Homo sapiens: one gene and its partner. The protein of the gene in region 2 purifies or fractionates together with the protein of the main gene of each other region. This does not show direct contact. Each region holds a gene or a part of one and is shown on either strand. Other genes may lie near its edges.

Region 1 (3,920 bases), 330 kb from region 2:
GTACATCTCCACAAATAATACACTGTGGTTTTAGTACTTCACCATCAATTACAGCTACAAAACCAAACTCAATATATGAAGGATCATATTTCCGAGTGAAACTAGCATGAACTCTTTTGGTTTTCCCTTCTTCAGGATAACTTCTATTGTTAACATTTCTTTTATTACTACTACTGTGTTCAGAAAAGGCATGTCTTTTCTTGACAAAAAAGTCCAGTGAAGCTTGTTTCGCCATCTGAAATTAGGAATAAAAGTAAATAATATGAATTTTACTTTCCTCCTTCAGCTAACAGTGTTATACCACAAGTTAAAAACTAGATTTGATTAAAATAAAAAATTATTTTAAAGTTAAGTTATAAAAATAAATAAATGCCTATATTTTCTCAGAGTTTTATACATCTTTGGGTTATGGCTGATAAACGAAACATAAAGTATCACAGGTTGTAATGGGGACCTATTGTGTTTGACTAGTGTGTAACTGCCACCACATGTGACTCACCTTGAGAGTTTAACAATACCTAAATTGGTCTATATTCTATTCAGTAAGATGAGTCCATTAATCATGTGCTTGGATGTTGCAGTAATGTCAATTGTTATAAAGGTTTCTAAATATTTACGCTTAATTTTTATATTTATTTCCTTATGGACTGGAGTTTTTATACCAGTACTGCTCTACTGATCACATGTTGCGTACCACTAGTTTAAGTCATAAGTAACCTCCATATTTCAAAACATTAACCCTACTTCATAAAGCCTATTGATTTTAAATTTTTTTGGTTCTATTTCATGCTCTCCATTTAAATTCCCAAACTGAAGTCTTTCCCAACACAAACCCATATCTTCCAAGCAAATTTATCATCCCCTACCCCTACAAATACTTCTTCACTTGATTTGAGAAGAAGCATTAAAAGTAATTAGGCCTTCTTTGGGGGAAATATATCCAAGGTAATAAAAATGTGCTTTCATATACCTTGTCACACAACACTTATTCACAGTACACTGTAATGAGATTCTTCCCCTGCTTTCATCTACGGCAGATATTCAATCTTACCCAGTCTCCTACTTTGTCTGGTGAAAATGGTGTCCCTGATGGCTTTAGCATTTTGGAAGGTTTAACAGGCAAACTTCTTTGAATCTCATCATGTTTCCTCTTCATTGTGCTGGTTTCATAGCAAAGGCTACAAGTTATTTGCCGACCACAGCCCTCAGTCCCATGTTGAGAGGGCACTCCACAAATTGCATGGATATTTCCATCACATGATATACAACTATTAACACCTGTGCATTCTTTTTCACAAACTACACAGGATAAAAATCTTAGTCTGCTCTCAGGAGGGCTTTTTTCAGCCACCTTAGGAGTGACAGAAAGATTCTCTTCAATATCACTACTGTCTGTTCCAGTCTCAATGTTTTCTTCATACTGGGCTCTTAAAGTATTTTCTAACTCTTTGTCAGCCTGATCTAATTCATTTTCTGTATGCAAGCTGGCAACAAGTTCTTCAGTTAGCTGAGAATGGGACAAGCCCAGTTTAGCTTCAGAGCTAAATGCACTTTCACATGGAGTCTGTTGCATGCTTCTGTGATAGGGCTGATTTTGGGACATCTGAATGAACCACAAAAATTCAGTCCAGTGTGATGAGTTGTTAGTTTGCATCCAGGAGAAAATCCTCTTTCGGATATCCTCAGTTTGTTCTGCAGAACTCTGGCTTTGGCAGGTCTGAGACTTCCCATGGACAATTTTCAATTCTGGCCAAATATTACTGAGTTCACTGACAACCTGGCTTGAAAATTCCCTCCCATTGTCAGATTGTAGGACACTGGGTGCTCCAATAATTGTAAATATATCTAAAAGAGCATGTGCAACTTCCGTAGGCCTTTTAGACTTTAATGACCGCAAAAAAGTTAACTTTGTACAGAGATCTTGATAATGCAAAATAAATCTGTACTCCCCATCAGGATTCAACTGCATGTCTATAAGATCTACTTGGCATCTTGAACTAACTTCCTTAATTGATTTTGATGTTAGAACCTTCTTGAGTTTTGAATTTTTCTGTTGGCATGGTTTACAGAGGGTCAGATACAGCATTATAACTTCTTTTGTGATGTTCTTGTATTTCGCTTGTAACTCTTTCTCCATGCGAGTACGTCCACCATGTCCAATGCTGAGATGTGTATTATGCAGAATGTCAAATAAGTCCTCACTGTGTAAGTAATACCGTATTTTATCTGTTTCCCCATTTACAGCCTCAATTAGCTTCTCATTTCCTTGTACAAGGATAACATCAAATCTAGCCAAGCGACGGTAGTCAACTGATTCCTTTTTCGCCTTAGCTTTAGCTTCTTTCACTTCCTTTATCAACTGACAGTACTTTGCTTTAGAAAATATCTTAGTATTATTACTTTTGTTTTCCAGTAACCTTGCTAAGCTTCTGAAGAACTTTTCTCTCATGTTTTCTGGTTCAATTTCTGCTTCATTAGTATCTAAGCTACTGAGGTTATCACCACCCATGCTTTGAGACATCATGGAAAACCACAAAAATGACCCTAAAAACAAAGGAAAAAAATCAATTAGAATATTCAGGAATATAATTTAAAAGACATATATTGCCAAAGGAGCCAGTAGTGCTTGAGGTAGAAGTAGGGAATATGGACACACAAAAGGGGATACCATTTTCTTTCTTTTTTGAGACAGAGTCTCACTCTGTTGCCCAGGCTAGAGTGCAGTGGCACAATCTCAGCTCACTGCAACTTCTGCCTCCTAGATTCAAGCAATTCTCCTATCTCAGCCTCCCGAGTAGCTGGGACTACAGGTGCGCACCATGACACTTGACTAATGTTTTTATTTTTAGTAGAGATGGGGTTTCACCATGTTGGCCAGACTGGTCTTGAACTCCTGGTCTCAAGCAATCTGCCTGCCAGCCTCAGCCTCCCAAAGTGCTAGGATTACAGGCGTGAGTTACTGCACCAGGCCAGGGGGATACCATTTTGATTAAGGAATCCAACTTTGGTGGAATGAAGAGCGTAAATGAAACTCCAGCCAATAACAAAAAGTTTCAAACAATAAAGAGCAGAAAGCCAGGACATGAATTTCCAGAGCAGTTTTCAGGATTGAAGCACTGTTTTATGTAAAATAGGATGCAAATTAACATTTACTTGTTTGTTTACTATGCAAAGACTTTTTTTTTTTTTTTGTATTTTTAGTAGAGACGGGGTTTCACTGTGTTAGCCAGGATGGTCTCGATCTCCTGACCTCATGATCCACCTGCCTTGGCCTCCTAAAATGCTGGGATTACAGGCGTGAGCCACCACACCCGGTCTCAGACTTTTTTTTTTGGAGGAACCTCAGCAAGACAATAATAGATTTTTAAAAAAATCTCCACACTACACATTTTCTCTTTTATTCAGTCAGGTTAGCTATTACATCAACATTTGAGGAGTAAGTTCCAACCTAATATATTCATATCAGCTCCCTTTTAGGGCTATTAACTACAAACTCAATACAAATAGCTTCATTACTAATTTTAATAAGAGTACTGGATGAGTCAAAATCAGTGAAAAATTTCTGACTTAATAAAGCTTATTAAAAGAAATTTCTAGAATACTCATAATAACAGAAACACTAAGAATACTTCAAATTTGGCTAAGTGTTAAGGAAAAAAACTATTTTGGAAAAAGTAAAAAATAATAATTTGGAATTAGCATAACATCTCTAGATAGTTTTATAGTTGCTTGGAAAAATACTTTCACTCAAGTCAACATCATTTATACTATCAATTTGCATACCAAATAGTGAGACAGAGCAGGGACCCCTCTTAGGGGCCTGTCAGCCACCCCTAACCCCAAGCATGGTAATAACAGAAAATCTTGAGTTCCTTCAAGGGAAATTCCAGGCATCTAACTATCTTTAAGAAGTAAATGAG
Region 2 (3,920 bases):
CTGGGGAGAGAGCCACCAATAAGACAGAATTCTTGCTTTGATGGAGCTTACATTCTAGCAGGGAGGATAGAAAATAAATTAATAATATAATTTTAGATATTGTTAAGTGCTATGAAGAAAATAAGGCAGAATTTGTAAAGCCAGCCAGAACATTCCAGAGATAGTAGGACTGCTGCAAATAGAAGAGTGTAAATCTAAACCCTGTAAAGCCTGTGACTAGAAGAGTGAAAATCACTTAATAGGAAGCAGCTGTGTGTTCCATGCTGTTCCTCATCTGCTGTGAACATCTGGGCCGATTCCTAAGACATACAACACTTGGACATGCCATCCAACATGCAATCTTTATTTCTCAGCAGAGTTTCTGGCCTAAACCAACTTATTTTCTGCCCCTTGCAAATTGACTTATTGTAGGGAAACCTAAGGTTTCTTCTGCTTCTGAGTCTGAGCAAGTTCTATTTAAGCAGTCTTCCAGTCTTCCATTGCCTCCTTTCTGGACCCAGCCTTATTTGACTCCTCCTAGTTTTTCTTTTTCTTTTTTCTTTTTTTTTTTTTTTTTTGAGATGGGGGTCTCACTCTGTTATCCAGGCTGGAGTGCAGTGGTGAGACCTTGTCTCACTGCAACCTGTCTCCCAGGCTCAAGCAATCCTCCCACCTCAGCCTCCTGAGTAGCTGGGAGCACAGGCCCATGCCACTACACCTGCTAATTTTTTGTAATTTTGGTTCAGACAGGTTTCTCCAGGTTGCCCAGGATGGTCTCGAATTCCGGAACTCAGGCAACCCACCTGTCTCAGCCTCCCAAAGTGCTGCGATTACAGGGATGAGCCACTGTGCCTGGCCTCCTCCTAGTTTTTCATACCTGAAGTGGAAAGCATCCTAATATCTACTAAAGACATTTTAACCAAAACAAAACAAAAACAAAAAACCCTCTTTACTCCCCATCTCCTAGCAAAATTCAAAACCCAAAGGTCTTCAAATGGAAAGCTTTGTTATGTTGCATTCATTTCACCACTCCTACCAACGATTCTGCACGTGGTTTTTGTATATCTGCAGAGTGCACCAGACTTCTTTCGGCCCTAGGGCTGGAGCTGGTGGGAATCAGGCATTTTTGAAAGGAACACATTCTGTATAAACTTATTGGCAAGAACTTACTGCCCCAGTTTTTGAACTTGGATTTTGCAAGGTGGGGAGGCTGAATACTAGGGTAGTTCTCATCCAGAGCTTCTTTCTTTCTTAGTTCTCCAGGTTCCTGGGCTTGCCCAGGGAGGGTGCTGCAGAGAAGATGCAATGGTAGCTTCCAGGCTCACTCCAGGGTCCCAGGTGAGCTGGAGCTCCTCTCCCTCCCCAGCGCCCCATACCTTTCACTACTGTTGGGCTCCGCATTAAGTTCCTCCCTCCCCAGTCCTACCCCACCCCTATCCTAGATCTACATGAATTTGAGTTTTCTCATCTATCCCAAAGTTGCATATAATTGTCCACCTTCATTTTGGTGCCCACCTAAGAGGACTTTCCTGTTTCACAACAACCTTGGAGTTTTCTTTGTACTTCTCAGATCTTTCCTCCTACATTTCTTCGGTCAGCCTCTTCTTCAATGTGATTTTTCTCCTTCAACAAGGGCAGTTCCGCAAAAGCAAACTGAAGGTTTTGTTGGGATGGTCATTCTGTTTTGCTTTTTAAGATACAATAAGCTGTGCTGTTGGTGAGGGATATAAAGGCCTGGCCCTTGCCCTCAAAGAACTTATACTTGAAAGGTCAGATAAGGCATAGTTATCTTGAAGTTATTTATATTACAATATGAACAATCTTTTCTCAACCTAGATTTCAATTTACTACTCAGCCTTTCCTGTCCTGCTTGAAGATCTCAGTGTTTGAGGCTGTGTAGTATCCTTTTTTTCCCCTAATTTTTCTCACTTCAGTTCTAGATTTCATTGTATTTTTGAAGCTATTAATGTAAATGAACCCCTACTCTCACTTTGCCAAAGCATACTGCAAATCTTTTGAAAATTTTGGACATAGTTCCATTCCTTTTGCTGCATTGACCCTTGTCTTCCAAACCTTTTTACTTTCTGGACTGTTTAGATATTTATATGAAAGTACTTATCCTAAAATGTGTGTAATATTTCTTTCATTTGGCAGGTTTTCTTGATTAAGATGTTATTAGAGATAAAGCTAAATTGGTGTAGGTGTGCCACACTTGCTCCTTTTTAAAGAGCCTCTTTAAAGGGGATGTTCATTCTTTGCTTTGGGGGTAATTTTGGGCAAGAGGAGCTAGTTAGGACTACCTATTGTTTTAGGGTTTGCTGAAAATGGAAGATGTGGCCCTGACCCTCACTCCTGGGTGGACACAGCTGGATTCATCTCAGGTGAACCTCTACAGAGATGAAAAGCAGGAGAACCATAGCAGCCTGGTCTCCCTTGGTAAGACTGAGACACTAATTTGTCTTAAGATTTCTTGGCATTCTTTGCGTATTAGAACCTATTGGGCTGTTAGAAGCTGTTAAGCCCCCATTATGTTTGGATTCAGAATCACCATTCCTGAAAGCCTGTTACTGACTACTAGCTCCTTACTCCTTCTGACCTTGCTTTCTCCTCTGTCATGCCAGTGTTCTAGTTAGGATAAGTGGGGTGAAATTGATACAACTCCTTGTACAGGTCTGGCTCATAGGAGATGCTCAGTAAATGTTGATGTCCTCTTGTTCCTATCCCTGACTGAAGAGGAAAGCTGCGGGGAGGGGGGGGCCTCTTCAGGAAATGGGCCATGGATTCAGAACGTGAGAGCCAGAAGCAACCTTAGACATCAACTACAGACCCTGACCTTAGGGGTGAGGGTGCAGAGGCGTAGATTACCTCACTTGTTTGAAATCTCATAGCTTATTTGTGGCACAGTGGGGGCTCTACCTCAGAACTCCTAGCGCCAATGCCAGTTCTGTTTGAGAACTTTGCCTCTGCCTGGGCACAGTTAGAGATGACGGTCCATGTCATTGATCGATCACCAGTCACCAGTTTCTTTGCTTTTGCCATTTCTTGCAGGTGCTTCAGAAATCCTTCCACTTGCCCTGTTACTGTCACCCTCTGCTCACCCCTTTCAAAATCTAATCCTAGGTGCATGGCCCTGCTTACTATTCTTAGAGCTTAGAACCATCACATATGTCCCCTGCATAGTCCTGGGTCCTCACCATTTTCCCTCCACTCCCAGTTTGTACCCTTCCAATGGCCCCATTCTCATTCTCAGGCCTCCTTCCTCCCCAGCACCCCTGTTCTCCCTTTTTATTCCCATTCTTATTCTAGCACTTAAATCCTCATCCTGGGCATATATAGACTTCTGTAATTCTTGTCTCCCTAGTACTCATCACAGAGCTTTCCTCCCATGGCAGGGCATAACCCACAGTTGCCGGCCATTTGTTGTTTCAGGTGGTGAAATACAGACTAAGAGCAGGGACTTGCCTCCAGTCAAGAAGCTTCCAGAAAAGGAGCATGGGAAGATATGCCACCTGAGGGAAGACATTGCCCAGATTCCTACACATGCAGAAGCTGGTGAACAGGAGGGCAGGTTACAAAGAAAGCAGAAAAATGCCATAGGGAGTAGGCGACATTATTGCCATGAATGTGGAAAGAGTTTTGCTCAAAGTTCAGGCCTGACTAAACACAGGAGAATCCACACTGGTGAGAAACCCTATGAATGTGAAGACTGTGGAAAGACCTTCATTGGGAGCTCTGCCCTTGTCATTCATCAGAGAGTCCACACTGGTGAGAAGCCATATGAGTGTGAAGAATGTGGTAAGGTCTTCAGTCACAGCTCAAACCTTATCAAACACCAGAGAACCCACACTGGGGAGAAGCCCTATGAGTGTGATGACTGTGGGAAGACCTTCAGCCAGAGCTGCAGCCTCCTTGAACATCACAAAATTCATACTGGGGAGAAG

What was found.
Region 1: the proteins of ZKSCAN4 (region 2) and SCAND3 purify together in Homo sapiens (affinity purification with mass spectrometry; 2 studies listed by BioGRID and IntAct, with this or other methods). This does not show direct contact.

Annotation. Positions count from the first base shown.
Region 1 is NC_000006.12:28,573,593-28,577,512, forward strand, and holds part of SCAND3 (SCAN domain-containing protein 3), read right to left. Parts: intron 2,545-3,920; coding exon 1,052-2,544; intron 236-1,051; coding exon 1-235.
Region 2 is NC_000006.12:28,245,464-28,249,383, reverse strand, and holds part of ZKSCAN4 (zinc finger protein with KRAB and SCAN domains 4), read left to right. Parts: intron 1-1,234; coding exon 1,235-1,317; intron 1,318-2,291; coding exon 2,292-2,415; intron 2,416-3,408; coding exon 3,409-3,920. UniProt on the Homo sapiens protein: May be involved in the transcriptional activation of MDM2 and EP300 genes.